Homo sapiens: one gene and its partners. The protein of the gene in region 3 purifies or fractionates together with the protein of the main gene of each other region. This does not show direct contact. Each region holds a gene or a part of one and is shown on either strand. Other genes may lie near its edges. The genes, in order: MSANTD2, RSF1, SHCBP1, EOGT, MOV10 and WDR11.

Region 1 (3,500 bases), on a different chromosome or scaffold from region 3:
GAAAGTTCCGGCCATTCACCAAGGAGGCATGTCTATTCATTCTTTAGATTTAATCAGGGACTCACTTAAAGCTATTAGAAAGCATCACAAACATAGCATCACTGGTAATTCCAGGAACTGTGATGTCTATACGTTCTTTTTTTTTTTTTTTTTTTTTTTTTTTTGAGACGGAATCTCGCTCTCGCTCTGTCACCCAGGCTGGTGTGCAGTGGTGCAATCTCTGCTCACTGCAAGCTCTGCCTCCCAGGTTCACGCCATTCTCCTGCCTCAGCCTCCAGCGTAGCTGGGACTACAGGCGCCCGCCACCACGCCCGGCTAATTTTTTGTACATTTAGTAGAGATGGGGTTTCATCGTGTTAGCCAGGATTATCTCGATCTCCTGACCTGGTGATCCGCCCACCTCAGCCTCCCAAAGTGCTGGGATTACAGGCGCGAGCCACCGCACCCAGCCAGATGTCTATACGTTCTTTCGTATCTTAGCTTAACCCTTCCAGTGATTATCTAAAATGTTGAGAATTTTGTATAGAAGAAATAAATGTGTTACAGGAAAACAGATGTGTTTTTGGTATTTGCCTGTGTGTGGATGTGGACATCTGGATGTTTAATTAAGGCACAAAGATGAGTCACAGGAACCTGAGTTTATCTGAGGTTAGGTGAAATGATAGGCGGACCAGAGGGACACCTGAAGTATTTTGGGAATCAAAAAGAAAGCTCTTAGATGACCTATTATACATTTGGAGAAGAAAGCAGTTGCTAGAGGAAAGACTAAGAAAGTCCAGGGACAGAGTCCTCCCTGGTCCATACAATTTGATCTTCCCCGAGTTTAGCATTATCTTTTGTGCAAGGACATCATAGTTCTTGGAATTACCAGTGACATCATATTTGTGGTTCTTTTTAATAGCTTTAAGTGAGTCCCTGATTAAATACAATTACTGAGGAGAATATACTGACCGAAAATTTATGGGGAAAGTAAGGAACGCCATTCATTTTTTTTACCTGTTAACCTTGGAGCATTGATAGCACCCACTTATTCTTGAGTGCTTCATCCCACACATGTGATCTTGATGTCTGAGAGATGGTAGAGAAGAGGCAAAAAGGGCTGTGATAGGTAACAGGCAGCACAACAAGAAAACATTAGTTGTTTTTTGTTTTGTTTGTTTGTTTGAGACAGAGTCTTACTCCATCACCCAGGCTGGAGCGCAGTGGTGCAATCTTGGCTCACTGTGAGCACCTGTAATTCCAGCCCGAGTAGGTGGGACTACAGGCGCGTCACCATGCCTGGCTAATTTTCGTATTTTTAGTAGAGATGGGGTTTTGCCGTGTTGGCCAGGTTGATCTCGAACTCCTGACCTCAAGTAATCCACCTGTCTAGGCCTCCCAAAGTGTTGGGATTACAGGCGTGAGCCACAGTGTCCGGCCACATTAGTTGTTTTTATTCAGCAAGACACCACTACCACCTCCCCTTTGTAAATGCTCATTTCTTTTTCAGAGTCTCTCTTTGGAATCAAAGAATTCCCATTGTCATCTGATTCCATGTCTGGAAAGAGGGTGAGAGTTCAGGGATGAGGAGTTTTTCCCCCAAATTGTAGCCATTATTTCATTCCTCAAAAAAGAAGCTAATCGCCCACATCAGTAAGTTTAAGGCCATTTCTTATTGGGAAGTAGTTGTCTTTTAGGAGTGTGACATCAAAGTGTACCAAAGGAAGGGAAACTGATTAATGTTGTAAAAAGTAAGTTGGGCGTGGTGACTCATGCTCACGCCTTTAATCCCAGCACTTTGGGAGGCCAAGGTGGGTGGATCGCTTGAGGTCAGGAGTTTGAGAGCAGCCTGTCCAACATGGTGAAACCCTGTCTCTACTAAAAATACAAAAATTAGGCTGGGTGCAGTGGCTCATGCCGGTAATTGCAGCACTTTGGGATGCCAGTGCAGGCAGATCACGAGGTCAGGAGTTCAAGCCCAGCCTGGCCAACATAGTGAAACCCTGTCTCTACTAAAAATACAAAAAATTAGCCAGGGATGGTAGCGGGTGCCTGTAATCCCAGCTACTTGGGAGGCTGAGGCAAGAGAATTGCTTGAACCCAGGACACGCAGGTGCAAGACTCTGTCTCAAAAAAAAAAAAAAAAACCAAAAAATTAGCTGGGCGTGGTGGCACACACCTGTAATCCCAGCTACTCGGGAGGCTGAGGCACAAGAATTGCTTGAACCCAAAAGGCAAAGGTTGCAGTGAGCCGAGATGGTGCCACTGCACTCCAGCCTGGATAACAGAGTAAGACTCTGTCTCGAAAAAAAAATGTGAGTTATTACAAGGCAAAGCGCGGTGGCTCATGTCTGTAATCCCAGCATCCTGGGCGGCCAAGGCGGGAGGATTGCTTGAGCCCAGGAATTAAAAACCAGTCTGGGCAACATAGCTAGACTCTCATCTCCACAAAAATTTTTAAAATTCACTGGGTATAGTGGCATATGCCTGTAGTCCCAGCTACTCAGAAGGCTGAGGTGGGGGGTTACTTGAGTCTGGGAGGTCAAAGCTCCAGTGAGTCATGCATTCCAGCCTGGGTGACAGAGCAAGATCCTGTCTCCAAAAAAAAAAAAACAAACAAACAAAAAAAAAGAGTTATTACAAATGTATACCTTCAAACCTTTATTCTCCAAAAAAGTCACTGGCTTTTTCATTAAAGTGTCCTATCTCTTCCTTATAATCATTCAGGACCTTCAAGGGAGGCCCAGTTGGTATAACTAGGAATGAACTCAAATTTTATGGATTTCATGTCACCAATCTCAAACCACTTAAACTTTTCTGGTGATTGGAACTTCAAAAACCAGGAAATCTAACAGACAGTTCTCAGGAATTGTTTAAATAACTGAGTCTAGTTTTCATTGTGCTCCAGAGCTTTGAAATGCTGGTTTGAATCTTGAGCCCAAATCAGCTTCAGGCTCATATCAGCAGGGCAGGAAACTGACAGACTCTGAGGAAATATCCAGCCTGTGCTGCCTCTCCTCCAGGTTTTAGCTCTCAGGGTGAGAGATTCTGAACAAGATCTGGGTAGGCCATTTATTTTCCAGTGCAAGAGTTTATTTAAAATGGTTCTTTGCAGGGTCTGACTATAGCATTAGTGCCATGACAATGCTGAAAAAAATAACGTGATTTGGGCATGGGATTTCTTTTTCTCTGTAGGTATAGGTGGGATTAGCTGAACCTGGCTAATCCCCTAGTCTGCTCATTTATTCAACACACGTTTCTCAAGTGCCTACTATATGTCAGGCATTGGGATACTTCATTGAGCATAATAGACAAAAATCTCTGCTCTCCATCCCAACTCCTTAGCATAGTCCTCTGTAAGATCAATAAAACATTTCAAAGGAGGGCAGGGAAAGATGGTAGCTATGAAAGATAATTTTCCTTTAAAGCATCGACCTATGCAGAAATATGGTCTATGTCTTAGCCTCATAAGCACCACAATCAGACATCATAAAATTGACCAAGTGCTTTTGTCTCCTCTG
Region 2 (3,500 bases), on a different chromosome or scaffold from region 3:
AAGGATGGCCAGAGTCTGATACTCATATCTATGGTTCTTCTCTAATAAGATGACACCTATCAATTTGCCAATTACATAAAGCATTCATTTCTTGTAGCGGTTGAGCCTCTATTTACTCACTTAATAGGGATAAGCATACTCTATAACAACATCAACTACTGTTAATCTGTAAAAACTACTCAACACTGACTGTGGTCTAAATGAGAGTTAACTTGTATTCTTCTCTCTCCAACAGCTGGGCATCTGAGGGAAATGTTCACAGTTTATTGAGAATGATTTCCAAGAAACCCTATGAAGATGAAGGTTTAGGAGTGGAAACATTTGACAACCAAGGAGTCATCACAATCCTACTAGGCATCTGATATGAAGTTAACGTATCAATCAGTATGTATTTTCTCAGATGTGCTTTCTATGAGAAAAATTTAGTCAGAAATAAGTCTTAAGAACAGAATTTTAAGAACTCTTAACTCCAGAAGTCATAAGAATTTGTTGAGCTGGCCAGCGTGCTGGCTCACGCCTGTAATCCCAGCACTTTGGGAGGCTGAGGTGGGCAGATCACCTGAGGTCGGGAGTTTGAGACCAGCCTGGCCAACATGGAGAAACTCCCTCTCTACTAAAAATACAAAATTAGCCAGGCATGGTGGCACATGCCTGTAATCCCAGCTACTTGGGAGGCTGAGGTAGGAGAATCGCTTGAACCCGGGACACAGAGGTTGCAGTGAGCCGAGATGGTGCCATTGCACTCCAGCATGAGCAACAAGAAAAACAAAAAATAATTTATTGAGCTACCATATGGTTACAGATTATTTTTACCAGAGTCTCTACTATTCTCCTCAGATTCCTCCTCTTCATCATCATCGGAATATTTTTTCTTTGGGGTCTTTCTTCGCAAACGCCTGCTCTGCCTCATTGGCCGAGAGGGGTGTCGCCTCAGTCTACGGCTACAAAAGTCAGTGTCACTGTCATCATTAGATGGCGGATCTTCTTCACTTTCATCTGGGTTTTCATCAGACACAACAAACTCATCTTGAGATCTGTCCAAGAGAAATCAGATAAAATACAATGGTATTTAGAAGAGTGAACCCATTTTTAAGAGTTCTGAGTTCAAATTCTGGTGAGCCCAGTGAATCATTAAGTATAGTGCAACATATCTGGATAATTGTATCAAATGCCCTATTTATAAAATGGGGAAAATGTTTTGCCACCTATCCTCTTAGGAGGGGTTGTAAAGATGAATTAATGTTGATTTCTGTACTGCTTTGACCTCTTGGGATGTCCCCCATGTTAAATTCGACATATTCAAAAGTGAATTCATTATTTCCCAATCTACTTCTCTCTTCTGTTCCCTGGCCTGGTATTTGGCACCATCACTCATCCGGTAACTCCAACCAGAAACGTGGTATTTATCCTAACTTTCCCCTTTTCATTTCTCATATCCAATAAATTAATAATTTCTCTAGAGTCTACCTCTTAAAAGATAATCTCTCAAACCTGATCTCTTCTGTTTTCAGCTTTTCATACTCACCTTAACTACAAAAGCAACTCCACAAATAGTTTCTCTAATATCTGGTCTCATTTCCCCTCAATCTATCCTCCAAATGAATGCCAGGATGAATCTTTCTGAAGCATAAATCTCATATTAATTTAGTGTTTAAAACCCTTCACTGGTTTTGTATAATTTTCAGGATAAAGTCAAAACACTTATGCATGACAAATAAAACACTCCCTAATCTGGCTCTTTTTATCACTTGACCACATCTCCAGTAGGGCACTCTCTACTTCATCCCCTTATTCCTGCTATCCAGAGCCAACAGGAGTTTCCCAAACATTCTATGACATTTTACGGCTTGCTGTCTTGGACATGTGACTTCTATGCTTAGAATACCTTTTTCTTATCCTGCTTTTAGTCTCATACTTGTTGATTCCAAATACTCATTCTTCAAATTTCAGATCAAGCTTTACTTCTACTTTAAGGTTTACTCTTTGGATTAAGCCAACTTTCCTCTGTAGCCTAATTTATCTTTCCCTGTATTTTAGTAGCAGTTATGCAGAATGACTTTTTTTTTTTTTTGTGGTTTATATACTTGTTTCCTCTTCTAATAATCTGAAAGGAGAAACTCTGCAGTATTGTTTCAATTCCAACTCTGCAAAGAAGCCTTTCTTGATCTTCTATACTGGATTACCAGTCCCAAGTCCAACTTCTATGAGTCATGAGAGGATAATATCTTATTTATTTTTCACATAGGACTGGAAACCCCTCATGGACCTGGCAGAAGGTGGCACAGAGGTACAGAGAAAGCTCTCAACAAATGAAAGTTTAATTGTAGTTAGTAAAATTTAAATACAATTTTGAATGTTAAACAACCATAAATCTATTTTCTGTTCTAAACTTTAAAAATGGGCCAAAATTAGTATTCTTGAATCTGCTTTAAATATCCTGAAAATAAACAGAGGTTGTCTATGTACATGAAGAAGAAAACCCTCATCACAGCATGGGCAAGCCTCTCTGCTAGCCCAGTCCTGTTCCTGCTGGTATCTAGGGATCGGGGCCTAGTAGGAGACCACACACCCATCACTGATCTTGAATTCATCCTCGCTCTCTTCTTCATCCAGGTTGCTATCACTGTCCAGATCATTTAATCGCCGGCGTTTCTTCCTTCGAGCAGCAGCTGCCCTCTGGGGTCGTTTATTTTCTTTTCTTTCTTCATCCAAAATAGTAGAGATGTCTTTCCCACGATGACCTGTGATGGTGGAGATATCTTTTCCTCGGCCAACTCCTGAATTTGGGGGAGGGAAGTTCGGGGAGAGAAAAATATGTGTTTATTAAAAGCTTCCCTTTAATTTCTAGAGACAGTCCTTATTCATGCTTAGCAGCTCTTCATTTCTTTATTTTCTTCCAACAAATATGCAGTTTTCTTATGACTTCAGCTGACAGAGGTCTCAGAGTTTTAGCATTCGTTTACCCTACTGAAGAGAAGTTTACTATGTAGGGAACCTCGTTTTTTAAATTTTTATATAATTCACACACCGCAATATTCACCCTCTTAAAGTGTACAATTCAGACATTTTTAGTATAGTCACAAAGTTGTGCAACCATCACCACTACCTAACTCCAGAACATTTTCATCACCCAAAAAAGAAACCTCATACCTATGAGCAGTCACTCAAGAATCTCTTCTTGAAAGCTGTCTTTTGGACAAGGCTTTAGAAAGAGGCCAATAGAGTTTTTAAAAACAGTGTTTGCAGGACAGAAAAAGTGAGAATTCAGCAGCAAAAATGTAAATAAAACATACATCTCTGGAAAAGCCTTAAACAATCTACTTATTAATCTTTTCCAGAGTTTTCATAATAACTAAGTAGAAACCAGAATGTTCCATATTGGAGCATTGGCTAATAGTGCTTTAATTAAATTACCTTCAAGTTCTTCTATTTTAATGCCACTTACTAAAGACTATGAAATTAAGAAACCAATTTTTAATAGGTTAACTTAAAAATTTTTG
Region 3 (3,500 bases):
CTATGTTTGTCATTGTTTTGAAGTGGGTGATGGCAGGAGGTGCTCCTTATAATTTCCGCTTTGCAAACATTTATTCCTTGATTTACTCGTCACCACAATGACCACTGTCACTCACTGTTTCACCAAAAATTGGAAATTGGGTCAATAATTATCTTGTTTGCATTAATATTTCTTAATGTATATATAGTTCACATTTATTTCAATGTTTAAGATTAGAATTGTTTGGGGTCTTTATTTAGAAGTTTGATGATGTTTTCATGACCAGAAATATGCTGTAGAAACTTTAACTTTTGTTTATATCAGTCAGCCTATGGTAAAATTGGTTTCATTAACATCACAGTTTCTAAGAACCTACCAACAACAGTAACTGAGGACTTTATTACAATGCCTGGCCATGTCTTTTTGTGAGGTTCAGATTGATCAACAGATACAGGTTGTCAACCTGATCCACCCTCTATAAAGTTCTCTTTCCCTAATGGTTGCAGCAGTCATCGATGTTCACTGTCTAGAACCTTTATTTCATTAGTGGTTACAAAATACTGATATTCTATCACTTTCTTCATGTATTGGTTGGAATACTTTTATAAAGAAATTCCTCAGGTGATTCCAAAGTGGTTCCAAGGTTGATTAGGGAAAAAACAGTAGATGGCCTAGGACTGATCCCTGGGTAACTCTGACATTCTAAAGTTTGAGCATGAGAGGAAAAGCTGGCCAAGATGACTGAGAAAGCAAGCCAGTAAGACACCAGCTGAACAGTGGTGTCCCAGAAGCTGAGAGGAGAGGGTGTGAAGAAGATGGGAATGATCAAATACCTAGAATGTCAAGACGTTAAGCAAGATGAGATCAGAGGCAGGATGAGATCAGTGAAACGTTGACTGAATACAAGAACATGGAAGTCTTTGAGCATAATTTCAGAGATGAGGTCAGGGTAGAAGAGTTACTGAGACACCAGGAAGTATAGACTGTGATTATATATAACTCTTTCAAGAAGTTCTGCTGTGAAAAGGAAGCACTGAAAATGAAACCAGCCATCTCCTAATTATTGTAGATTGGGCTGTTAGTCCCTTCACCCTCTAGTGGAGTCTTTTGTTGTTGTTGTTGTTGTTGTTGTAATGAACTTAAGCATGCCTCTACTCGATTGAAAAAACCTCTGCTGGCTCCCTTTTAGCCCTCAAAAAGAAGTCCTGAACGTGGTACTATAAATAGATTCATAATCTGGCCCTATTGCGCCTCTCCTGCCTCAGAGCCGTTGTACCTAAACTCTCAATTTCACAAGCTCTTTCAAACCTCCATGTAACTTGTTAGTCAAGCTGCCAGAAGTGCCTTCCACCTTTTCCACCTGGTAAGCTTATAGTTCTATTCCATGACTCGGCTCCAATATCATCCTCACCAGTACCATGCCAAGCATTTACACATCATTCCCTTCTGTACCTCCCGCAGTGTTGATTCTTTCAAGCCAGAAATGTGGAAGTCAGCCTTGACTTCTCTCACCTCACTTACATCTTCTCATCTCTGATATCCACTCGACCACCAAGTCCAGCCATTGTACTTTCTCAGTAAGCCTCCATCCGTCCTCTCTATATCCCCACTCTAGTCCTCTCTCTTGCGTCTTAACTGGTCTACCAATTCCATCTCCCACCATTTGTTTTCTACACAGAAGCCACAATGAACCCCTGAAAACACAAAGCAGCACTTTAGGGGACTGAGGTGGGAGGACTGCTTGAGCCCAGGAGTTCGAGACCAGCTTGGGCAACACAACGAGACCCCCATCTCTACAGAAAAATGTTGTTAAAAAACTAGCTGGCTAGTGGTGGCACATGCCTATAATCCCAGCTGATCCAGAGGCTGAGGCAAGAGGATGCCTTGAGCCCCACAGTTCGAGCCTGCATTGAATCACATGATTGCACCACTGTACTCCAGCCTAGGCAACAGAATAATACCGTGTTTCCAAAAAAACAAAAACACAAAACACAAAACTAGTCATATTCACCCAAGAATAAAAATCCTTCAGTGGCTTCCCACTGCTCTTAAAGACAAAAATGACTAACCAGCTAACAAATCCCCGCACTGTCTGGCCCCTGCCAGCCTCTCTAATCTCATTTCCTAGGTCTCTCTCAGCACTGTCTGTGTTCCAGCCATGCTGGCCTTTCAGCTCCTTAAACACACTGAGCTCCCAAATCTTTTCCCTTCCCCACCCCTGCCTCCCCTTTCACACAGCTAACCCAAGTTCAAATGTCATTATTCCAGTAAATAACCCTAGAACAGCAACTTGACCTAATTTTAGGACACTCTGTAATTCATCACAGCACTCACTGCTATTTCCAATCATGCAGACATCTGTGCGTGATTATTTCATCAAGGCTCATCTCCCACCTTTAGACTGACAGCTCCCTGATGATGGTGTGTCTCATGCACCAGACATACCCCATCCTTGACTAAGGACCTGGCACTCAAATATTCATTGAATCAACGAACAAATGAAATCCCTCATAATTTGACCTTCACTGGGCACTGATCCAAATCTCAGCCCTCCAAATGAAGTGTAAATTTAACCAGGCTCCTCCTCAAATAATACTACCAAATAACATTCCAGATACTTATTTTTCCACGAACTTCTATGCCCATAGAGATTAGCTCCCTGATTCCTAATTTCCTAAACTTATCAGTTATCACTTTATCTTCAAATGCTTCAATTGACAGATTTTTTTTAATGAGAAAAATAGAAGGGAGTTATTTTGGTTCTGGACAGAAACCGGTTCTTTAGATTCATTCTGCTTGGCCCAATACTGAACATCTAGGGTTAAATGTTCTTGCATACAATTAGAAACTGTCCGTAAGATGTTGGCAGCAGGGCCTGAAACACTCTGCTTCTTTGCAGAGCATTCGAGTTAAGCTCAGCAAAACCACGTTAACTCACTAATGGTATAGAAAATAGAAAGTACTTTTTATACTACAAAACACCAAGCAATGTTATTTACATTATGGTCATTATATATTGCTCAGTCTTCTAGTTCCTGAAGGAATATGGGTCTATTTTTAAATAGCTACAAGTAAGCCTTCTTTGGCGAAGATACAAAATAACTATCTATATCAGGAACTATCCAATAAAAGATTGATCTGAAAAATTGTTGAAATCATACCCACTGATCCAGGTATGGGCTTTCTTTCCCAAGGAAGGGACAAGGGGTCCACTTGTGCAGTGGAAATAACTATGGCAAAAAAGACTCACAGGCAGGAATACATCCCCTAAGGATCCTAGAAGCAGCCTAAGAAAACACTTGCTTTGACCAGACATATGCTTGAAAAAAATGTGTATTCGTCTTTTAGCAGTACACACACCATAGTATATAACCTTCTTCACTGTCTTTCTCTTCTTCTACTTTCTGTACTCTTGTATTGAAATATACCGACCATAAGCCTTAACATCCACAACTTTTAAGTCAGTTTATAAATATATACAAACCCAATTAAGAATCCCCTACTTTTGTTAACATTTGTGA
Region 4 (3,500 bases), on a different chromosome or scaffold from region 3:
AGCTTTTTGAATTTAAAAAGTTTGTATTTTAAAATAATTTTAGACTCATAGAAGTTTAAAAATAGTATGTATTATACCCAAGACTGACTAACTTACAAAGGAAAGAGGTTTAATGGACTCATGGTTCCTCATGGCTGGGGAGGCCTCACAATCATGGTAGAAGGCAAAGGAGGAACAAAGGCACGTCTTACATGACAGCAGACAAGAGAGCGTGTGCAGAGGGAACTGCCCTTTATAAAACTATCAGATCTTGAGAACAGCGCAGGAAAAACCCACCCCCATGATTCAGTTACCTCCCACCGGGTGCCTCCCATGATGGGAGCTACAATTCAAGATGAGATCTGGGTGGAGACACAGCCAAACCATATCATACTACAAGGAGAACTTGTACGTTGTCTAATTCCCTGAGCTTCCTCTAATGATAATATCTCATATAACCATGGCACAATGATCACAACCATGAAATTGACATTGGTACAGTAGTATTAACTTGTGCAGGTTTTACCAGCAATTACCTGTACTCATTAAAATTTTATCACTTGTGTAGGTGCGGGTATGTAGGTAGGGAGAGAGAGGGGGAGGAGGACGGGGAGGGCGACCACCACAATCAGGATGCAGAATTGTTCCATCATCCCAAAGAAACTCTCCTGCTACTCCTGTATAGTCACATAGGTTACTTACATAATGTTAATTTGTAAGGTCAAATGTCCATACCAAGGCCAGGAATGGCGGCTCATGCCTATAATCACAGCACTTTGGGAGGCCAAGGCAGAAGTATTACTTGAAGCCAGGAGTTCAAGACCAGCCTGAGCAACATGATGAGACCTCATCTCTAAAAAAGAAAAATAAAAAATAAAAATAAATTAGCTGGGCGAGATGGCATGCCCCTGTAATCCTAGCTACTTGGGAGGCTGAGGCGGGAGGACTGCTTGAGCTCAGGAGGTCGAGGCTGCAGTGAGCTATGATTGCACCACTGCACTCCAGCCTGGGCGATGGATCAAGACCCTGTCTCAAAAAAAAAAAGAAATTCATGCTGAGCAAACCTTTTTTTTTTTTGTCCTTAAAGAGGCCTCACTGCCTGGCTGCAGATCATTCAGAATAATGATCTACCACACATTTATCTGGGATTTTGCAGTCTGCAATGCAATGTCTCAAGTCACTTAGCAGACTTTTACAAGAGGTAGTTTCTATATTCAAGTGGGCTTTTTGATTCCTGGTACTTTCTGATATTTGATTCCACATGGTAGTTGCTCAGGGCATAATTGTATTAGTTGCTTATTGCTGTGTGACAGGCTATTCCAAAGTGTACCCTAGGGTATATTTATATTTATTACCTATTGTTGTATAACAAATGACTCTAAAATTTAGCAGCTTAAAATACAAACATTTATTATCTCACAGTACTTCTGAGGGTCAGGGTTTGGGAGCAGCTTGGCTGAGTTGGCCAGGGCTGTAGCCATCTCTAGACTCAACCTGGGCCTGGAGAATCTGCTGCTAAACTCACTCAGGTTGTTGTAAGCCTCGGCTCCTTTTGGCACCATCTCGGCTCACTGCAACCTCTGCCTCCCAGGTTCAAGCGATTCTCCTGCTTCGGGCTCCTGAAAATGGCTGGGACTAAAGGCGCTCGCCACTACGCCCAGCTAATTTTTGTATTTTTAGTAGAGATGGGGTTTCACCGTGTTGACCAGGATGGTCTTGATCTCCTGACCTCGTGATCTGACTGCCTCTGCCTCCCAAAGTGCTGGGATTACAGGTTTGAGCCACTGCACCCGGTCTGTTCCTTGTCTTAACATTAAAATTGATATCAACCTATATAAAAGTCAGTAAGTTTTAGAAGTTACAGGTGTCCATAGGAGTGTCTGTACCATTTAGAGGTAAAATCTGCCTAATGAACAGATCCTAAGTTACAGTGTTCTAATAGGAAGTTTGGGAGAATCAGTTTGAAGTCATGTCCCAATTCATAATTTCAGGTTTGCTGAGCTACAAAGCTATACTCAGCTCAACTTCAGACCTATAGAAGATGCTAAATGTGACATTGTCATTGAAAAACCAACATATTTCATGAAATTAGATGCAGGTGAGAAATAACTTTTTCTGTTATTTGTGTATTTGTTAATGAGATATTATTCCTTTTTTTGGATGTAGTAATTCTCTCTGAATTTTTTGGAAGCAGTATGACAAACAGTAGATTTGTTTTTTTTGCTTTCTTCTCTGAAGAAGTAGTTGAACTAATTTGAACTTCCCATTATTTTATAACTTGGGCATTTTAGAAGAAACTTTCACATTTATATCAAAGGACTTAACCAAAATCAAAGGACGAGAGGTGAAGGCATATTTATGCCTTTTGTAACTAAATTTACCTCATCTGGTTTCTCTAATCACTTGGTTTAGATTGTCTTTCATTAAGATGTTTAAAATCAAAAGCTAAGCCGGGCGCGGTGGCTCACACCTGTAATCCCAGCACTGTGGGAGGCCGAGGCAGGCAGATCACGAGGTCAGGAGATCGAGACCATCCTGGCCAACATGGTGAAACCTCGTCTCTACTAAAAAAACACAAAAAATTAGCTGGGCGTGGTGGCAGGCACCTATAGTCCCAGCTACTCGGGAGGTTGAAGCGGGGGAATCGCTTGAACCCAGGAGGCAGAGGTTGCAGTGAGCCAAGATCGTGCCGCTGCACTCCAGCCTGGTGACAGAGCAAGACTCCGTCTTAAAAAAAAAAAAAAAAAATCAAAAGCCATGTGTATAGTATGGGTGGGAAAGAAGTGTCCATGACCTGCGCTGACAAACTTTCTGTATCATTTCCATGACTAAAGTGAACTTAAAATTCTTCTGGAAGTTACCAGTGTAATTTATTCTTGACATAAAATTAAAATTATTTTATCATTTATACTTATAGCCTCTTTCTCAGCTTGCAAGCAGAGCTTTAACTTTGCGAACTAGTTACACTGGGGAGGAGAAACACAGATTGTACTATATTATCTCTTTCATTATGAGAGACAGGGATTACTGTGCTAGATCATATCAAAATTCATGAGAGGTTGGGTTTACAGTGAAATATAGAGAGCCTCTGTCACAAATATTTCAGAATTAGTATAATTTATTGATCATAGTTTTAATGTGCTCTGCCTTCTGAAGTCATAGTTCTTATATTACAAAGTATTAAATTCAGAAATCAGACAAGTTTAGGTTTTTGAAATAAAAGCGAGTAAAAATGCTATGTTCCAGGTTTTGACTCGTTTTTAAAACATGCAAATTAAAAAGGGGCAAAGAAAACACTGATCCGTCTGTAAAAGTGGCAAATATGTGTGAGCTATTAAATTTATGCAGATACTTATACAATAAAGTATATAAAGTGAGAATAATAGGCTAGAGTAGACATGTCTCATTTCTTTCCTATATTCATAACTCTACTTTTTTCTTCTAATTTATGCTGTCTTCCAATTTTACTTTTCTTTCTTTAGAGACAGGTCTTGCTCTGTTGCCCAGGCTGGAGTACAGTG
Region 5 (3,500 bases), on a different chromosome or scaffold from region 3:
CTGTCTGCAGTCCCCAGCATAGAGCTTTGTATGTAGTAGATGCTCAATAAATGCTTGCAGAATCTAAGTGAACTAGCAACTAGAGTTAACTAACAAGAGAATGGGCCATATAGCGGGGGGTATAGCAAGTCACACTCTTTAGGAATTCTAGGAGATTCCTACACTGAGAGGGGATAGGTCTCTCCAGCTAGGTTATTTTATGATGTTATAAAGTGCTCTGCTCTGAACTCTTGCCTTTTCCCACCTACCTTTATTCATTTAGCAAATATAGTTAATGAGGCTCTACTGTGTGCCTGTGCCTTGGTCCTTGCCTCCAAAGAATATAATCTAGTAAAGAGCAGCAGATATGTGTAGACAAACAAATGCAATACAGTAGTATAGGTGCTAGTAATGGTGTTTAGATAGCCCTGCCATTTAGTGGTTGCATTTAACTTTGAACAACTCTCTAAATTTTCCATTTCCCCAACTGTAAGAGTATGTAAAATAGTACCTTTCTCTCGGGGTTGTGAGAGACCAAAATGAGTTGTCCTAGGCAAAGCATTTGTGTGGCTAGCATATTACACTGGCTTTGTTAAGTGGTACCCCTCATTAGTGCGATGATGATTAGGAGTCCATTGTATGGGGTAAGGACTGATGTCACGAAAAGGTTTCTGAGAGAAGATGATTCTTGCTTTGGACAGGAGACTCATTCTTCTACAAGTACTGGCTGAGTGCTTCCTATGAATGGCAAAGCAAAAGTGAGTTGCTAGAAATATACAAAAGGAACCCAACTAACTAAGGAAGGAGGCAGCAGTTAGATAATTATTTAATTACGGTTGTGATGAGTGCTTGTACAGAAAAGTCCAGTATGCATTGAGAGTATATAATTTGGAGATCTGTCCTAGTCTAGCAACCTAGACTAGATCAAGAAACTTAGGCAGAGGTTTCTTGGGGAAAGTGATATTTGAGTAGAATCTTGAAGGATTAATGGGACTTAGAAGGTGTAAAGGGCAAGGGTAGAGTGTACAGGCAGGAACAGCACCTTCAAAGGCTTGGGATGACCTCAGAAGAACGGGAGACCAGCAGGGCCCTGGGTAGGCATTGTGAGGTGTTTTGTTTTGTCTTTAATCTTAATGGAAATAGGAAAACACAGAAAATTTCAAAGTAAGAGTCTGACGTAATCAGATTTAGAAAGATCATTCTGGCTTCTGGCGTGGAGAGTGGCTTGGTGGTTGGACCTCTACCCACAGTAAAAAACACATTTTACTTTGGGACCTGGCATACACAACCTTCACAAAACAATGCCTGCCCTTGAAACAATACATAGTTTCACTCCCTGCTCTCTGATATTTTTTATTCTATTTTATTTCAATTTTATAAAAACCCTGGCTTTGACCCGCTAATGGGAGTTGGAATCCATAGTCTATAGATTGTGAAACTAGATGTCTCTTTAAGATCACTTCCAAATCTGATCATATGTGCTGAAATACCATTCCTCTAGCTTTTGGCCTTTCCTGAACTGGGTCTAAAAAGATTAGCCATTGTTCACCCAACAAACAGCAGGGGCGGCCTAAGGCAGGGCAGTGCAGGCTAAGGATGTCCACAGCACAGAAGTCTGCAGAGGGGCACAGTGATACAAGTAGTTGGGAATGGCTGAAATAAGGATGGATTGACAAGAGGCCAAGTGTGGTTGAGGATGTGTACCTCAATTTCTTTTTCTCTAAAATGGGATGATAATAATTACTACCTCAAAGGGTTGTTTTGAGGATTGAATGAGATAATGCATTCAGGAAACGTTTTCTGTTGATGTTATTGTATTTGCATTATCGTTGTTACTATGGAGGATCTTGGAAGGTGCCATATTAAAGACTTAATTTTGTGGACTATGGAGTTGTAAATTGAGGGAACAAGATCAGATTTGTGTTTGATGACAATTCTGCAGATATAGGGGGTGGCCTAGTGTAGGGGTATGAAGCCAGAGGTAGGGAGAACAGTTAACTGGAACCTAGAAAATTGAGCAAGGGGTATGATCAGGCAGCTCACAGAAGAAATATAAATGACTAATAAAAGAAGGAAAGATCCTTGACTATATTGGTGATCAGAGAAATGCACAGTTTAAAAAGATAGGAGTTTTTGTAATCAAATTGTCAAAAATTTAAAACATTGAAAATTTCTGATGTTAGAGCTTTGGGAAAAGGGCATTTTCTAACTCTTGTTAGTGAGAACATAAATTTGTACAACCTGTTTAAAGGACAATTTGGCAGAACTTATCAAAGTTGTAAAGGTTCATTCTCTTTGACCCAGGTGTTGTACTTTAAGGAATTTATCCCATTAGACTTGCCTACAAGTACAAGGGTTTGTGTGCAAGGATAGTTATTGTAACATTAGGAGTAGCCAGAAATTTCAGGCAGCTTGTCTATCACTAGAGAAAAAAACACACCATGATGCATTCATACATGCTATCTTTTGTAGCCATTCAAAAGGTCATGGTGGTTCTGTAAAGCATTGTTATGGGAGAAGATCCATGGTGGGAAGACGCCTGCTGCAGAATAGTATGTGTAGCATGTATCATCTCATTATTGTGTTTTATATGCATAGAAAAAAATCAGGAAAAACATACATCAAATAGTGGGTTTAATTAATTGCTCCTAATCAAGCAAGTAGTTGGAAGCAAGGGAATTAAGGGCTTTAATGTTTTATGTTAGATACTTGTTTAAATGTTTTAAAAATACTTTTGGGCCGGGCGCGGTGGCTCACGCCTGTAATCCCAGCACTTTGGGAGGCAGAGGTGGGCGGATCACGAGGTCAGGAGATCGAGACCATCCTGGCTAACACGGTGAAACCCCATCTCTACTAAAAATACAAAAAATTAGCTGGGCGTGGTGGCGGGCGCCTGTAGTCCCAGCTACTCAGGAGGCTGAGGCAGGAGAATGGCCTGAACCCGGGAGGCGGAGCTTGCAGTGAGCCGAGATTGTACCACTGCACTCCAGCCTGGGCGACAGAGTGAGACTCCGTCTCAAAAAAAAAAAAAAAAAAAAAAACTTTTGGTGATCACCTTTTCATTTATCTCTTTTTTTTTTTTTTTTTTTAAATCTCTCTCTGTCACTTAGGCTGGAGTGCAGTGGCACGATCTCAGCACACTGCAACCTCCACCTCTCGGGTTCAAGCAATTCTCCTGCCTCAGCCTCCCACGTAGGTGGGATTACAGGCGTGAACCACCATGCCTGGCTAATTTTTGTATTTTTAGTAGAGACGAGGTTTCACCATATTGGTCAGGCTGGTCTTGAATTCCTAACCTCAGGTGATCACCTGCCTTGACCTCCCAAAGTGCTGGGATTACAGGCGTGAGCTACTGCACCCGGTTCATTTATCTCTTTTTGCAGGCATGCTTATATCACACCTACATAAGTTTACACACGTGGGATCATTATCACATATCATTTTTATTGTGGACCCCTCCCCTTATGGGCATCCAACCTCCATTTCCACATTCCGCCCTGTACTCAGGTACCTCTTGATAT
Region 6 (3,500 bases), on a different chromosome or scaffold from region 3:
ATTAGCATTTGGATTTTGGTACATAGTAGAGATCTAAGTTTTGGATGCCAACCCATGTTGGTCACTTCAGGGAATAGTTGTACATTTTTATTGTCAATTTTTATGTGTAAAGTACAAAATTAAATCTTTTATTAGGTCTGATATAAATGAAGTCTTTGACCCAAGTGAATGTTTACTTTTTTCAGTGCTGAATTCATAACTCTCAATGATTGCCTTCAGTTGGCATACCTGCCTTCAAAAAGGAATCACATGTTGTTGCTCTATCCTCGAGAGATTTTAATCCTTGACCTTGAGGTGAATCAGACGGTGGGTGTGATTGCAATAGAACGCACAGGAGTTCCATTTTTACAGGTATCTACAATTCATAAATTATATTCCCCAAAATTATTAAGAATGTTATATTAAAAGAAGGCCATAATCTTGCATAAGTCTTGTCTTCAGTTCTCCACTTTCTCTTTTCAATTTATCAAAAGACTAGCAACACTATTTTAGATTGTTTTTTTTGTCTGCACTTTTGATTGGTTTGATTTACCCTAGAAATTGTGACTGATCCTGAGATATTTATTGAACTATTTAAGTCACATGGGTAAAGACAAATTATTTTAGGATTATAAATGGATATTTTAAATGTACATTTAGTTTTAAAGTTTGGGATTTGTCTATTTTTTTTTCTTTTGCCCATATTATCTAAATATGAGTTTGAGTTTCACAGTATATACTTTATTAATCTATTGTGTTTTAAAAAATAAATATATCATCTATTTAAAGGTAATACCCTGCTTTCAGCGTGATGGTTTATTTTGTCTACATGAAAATGGTTGTATAACTTTACGTGTTCGAAGATCTTATAATAACATTTTTACCACTTCAAATGAGGAACCAGGTGAGTTTCTGTCTCACAATAATGTTATATTTTTCTTCAAAATTATTTTATAAAGCTTGATGTGGCAAATACCAGCCAAGGTATATAGTTAATGATACTCCTTGCTTTGAGGAAGTTTAAAATATGGTTATAATAAGAGGCATAAAAAGTATAAGCCCAAGATTAATCTCTTGATGTTAAAACAGTGCACCTCCTGTATACATCAAAGAGAGTAAAATTTTGTGTTTCTTGATCATATCCATGAGCCAAGTAGATATTATTTTTTGGAATTTTTTTTTTTTTTCAGTACAAGTCCAACCTTGTGTGCCTTTATTATTATACCCCCTTGACTTGTTGGCTGTAAGAACTTCCATTGTAAAGTGACAGAGGTTATTAAGTCTCAGTTGTCAAGTCAGTCTTATCTTGGAGAATGGAAATAATGTTTTTGTGAAATTATATACTGTGTAAAGATCAAAGTGATTTTCACATCTTTTGGAAAGTACAGTTATTTTCAGGCTTATAGACTACTACAAATTATGATGGAAATTTATTCATTAATTATATATCACTGTTGATCCTTTTTCAAAGTATCGTCTTTATTTTAAAATATTGAAAAAAGATATCTTGATTATAGTTGTTATTTTGGAAATTAAACTTAGTACAGTCATTAAGTAAATTATATTTGGAAAAAATTTAGTAGTAATTGTAAAAAGTGAAGCCATGCTTGACATTGCATTCATGAAGGAGTGATGCCCAAATTTAGTTGAGGTTTTATTTAAATTGAAACAAACAGTAGTGGTATCGATATGGCTGCTTTCTGATATTTAAAACAATTTTATGTGAAGATCCAGATCCAGTTCAGGAGCTTACCTATGATTTACGAAGCCAGTGTGATGCAATCAGGGTGACAAAAACCGTCCGTCCCTTCAGTATGGTGTGCTGTCCTGTCAATGAGAATGCAGCCGCCCTCGTAGTGAGTGATGGCAGGGTCATGATATGGGAACTCAAGTCTGCAGTTTGTAATCGAAATTCACGGAACAGGTAAATGAATCAACAGGATCATGGTTTTGTTTTTTGTTTCCTGTTTCCTTTTATAAAAAATTTCCATAATCATAAAAATAGGAGGGCTGGTTTTCTATAAAAATATTTTTAAGGTAATAATTAAGGCTTTAGATTATTAGGGAATTATGTAAATCTGCTAGAGCTATTTCACCTATGGGTAAGATGAATGAATAATATAAAAATAGATAGAATGCCATAATCTGGACTTAATACTTTGAATTCCTAATACGTAATGCAGATTTTAAGTATGTAAAACCTTCTAATTATTATGTCTTTGCAGTAGTTCTGGTGTGTCACCTTTATATTCACCAGTGTCTTTCTGTGGAATTCCTGTAGGAGTGCTACAGAATAAACTCCCAGACCTTTCCTTAGATAACATGATTGGTAAGCTTTTTTCCCCTCTAACTCCATGTTAAGTATTCTTTCTGAAGGGCAAAATTAATAGAATCACTCACTTGTAATTATTTTAAAGTCAAAAAAGTTAATACTTGAGAAAACTAGAACATGGAATCATTCTTTCCTAAATAAATCAGAGGGGTTTAAAATACTTAGGTAGAAAAGTGCCTGAAGTAGCACGGGTTTGCATTATAGTTGTTAGAAATAGAAAACGTTCATTCGTGAGAGACTGATGTAAATGAAAGCAATGACATTAGGCATCTGGATTTTGGACCTAGAGCCGATGCTGAGCTATGCCATGCCAACTCAGGGCCTTGCTGTTTGCTGGTTCCTCAGCTTGGAATGAAGTACATGCTTCCTTTCTGTCTGCTACTCCTAATTCAAAATTCAACTCAGATGTTGTTTTCTTTAATCTCCCAAGTCTAATTTAAATGCTCTTCTTTTGTTTTTCCTAACAGTTATCAGCATATTTTAATTGTGGGTTTTTTTCTTCTGTTTCATCTCATCAATTGTAAGCATCACAAGGGTGGTACAGTGTTTGATTCTATTTTGTCTTTCCCAGCACTCAGCACAGTACCTTGTGCATGCCTGTTTTGTAGTAAATATTTACTGAAGGAATAAAGTAACTGAGCAGTATTAGAAAAGATTATTTTAACTTTTTGACATGAATTATTTTTATGTTGGGGATTCTTTCAAAAAATCATTTTTGGAGATAAAGTGTTCAAAGTTATTTAATTATGAGGCCAGTATGTATTAAAGGAAGAATGAGAGTTTGTGATTTCAAATTTTATGCTACTTGAAATTATAAGGCTTTGTAAATATGCCAAGCAATTTGGACATCTAATTTTTTTACAGTTGTGGCTATGGTTTATAAAGGATTTTCTGTTTTATTATTTATTCTACCATAATATAATTGAAAACGATATTATTTAGGAGGGTTTTTTTGTTGTTGTTGAAACGCTAAATAAGTGATGCACTAGAAAGAGCATTGGCCAGGCGCAGTGACTCACGCCTGTAATCCCAACACTTTTGGAGGCCGAGGCGGGAGGATCACTTGAGGTCAGGAGTTCGAGACCAGCCTGGCCAACATAGTGAAACCCTGTCTCTACTAAAAATATAAGAATTAGCCAGGTGCAGTGGCATGTGCTTGTGGTCCCAGCTACTTAGGGGGCTGAGGCAG

The links.
Region 1: the proteins of SHCBP1 (region 3) and MSANTD2 purify together in Homo sapiens (affinity purification with mass spectrometry, with the first as the bait; one large-scale study listed by BioGRID). This does not show direct contact.
Region 2: the proteins of SHCBP1 (region 3) and RSF1 fractionate together in Homo sapiens (co-fractionation; one large-scale study listed by BioGRID). This does not show direct contact.
Region 4: the proteins of SHCBP1 (region 3) and EOGT purify together in Homo sapiens (affinity purification with western blotting; one study listed by BioGRID). This does not show direct contact.
Region 5: the proteins of SHCBP1 (region 3) and MOV10 purify together in Homo sapiens (affinity purification with mass spectrometry, with the first as the bait; one large-scale study listed by BioGRID). This does not show direct contact.
Region 6: the proteins of SHCBP1 (region 3) and WDR11 fractionate together in Homo sapiens (co-fractionation; one large-scale study listed by BioGRID). This does not show direct contact.

Annotation. Positions count from the first base shown.
Region 1 is NC_000011.10:124,769,407-124,772,906, reverse strand, and holds part of MSANTD2 (myb/SANT-like DNA-binding domain-containing protein 2), read left to right. Parts: intron 1-3,500.
Region 2 is NC_000011.10:77,674,223-77,677,722, forward strand, and holds part of RSF1 (remodeling and spacing factor 1), read right to left. Parts: intron 2,778-3,500; coding exon 2,570-2,777; intron 1,035-2,569; coding exon 814-1,034; intron 1-813. UniProt on the Homo sapiens protein: Regulatory subunit of the ATP-dependent RSF-1 and RSF-5 ISWI chromatin-remodeling complexes, which form ordered nucleosome arrays on chromatin and facilitate access to DNA during DNA-templated processes such as DNA replication, transcription, and repair.
Region 3 is NC_000016.10:46,611,380-46,614,879, forward strand, and holds part of SHCBP1 (SHC SH2 domain-binding protein 1), read right to left. Parts: intron 1-3,500. UniProt on the Homo sapiens protein: May play a role in signaling pathways governing cellular proliferation, cell growth and differentiation. May be a component of a novel signaling pathway downstream of Shc. Acts as a positive regulator of FGF signaling in neural progenitor cells.
Region 4 is NC_000003.12:69,000,185-69,003,684, reverse strand, and holds part of EOGT (EGF domain-specific O-linked N-acetylglucosamine transferase isoform a precursor), read left to right. Parts: intron 1-1,970; coding exon 1,971-2,077; intron 2,078-3,500.
Region 5 is NC_000001.11:112,677,659-112,681,158, forward strand, and holds part of MOV10 (helicase MOV-10), read left to right. Parts: intron 1-3,500.
Region 6 is NC_000010.11:120,864,862-120,868,361, forward strand, and holds part of WDR11 (WD repeat-containing protein 11), read left to right. Parts: intron 1-185; coding exon 186-351; intron 352-768; coding exon 769-883; intron 884-1,707; coding exon 1,708-1,903; intron 1,904-2,204; coding exon 2,205-2,308; intron 2,309-3,500. UniProt on the Homo sapiens protein: Involved in the Hedgehog (Hh) signaling pathway, is essential for normal ciliogenesis.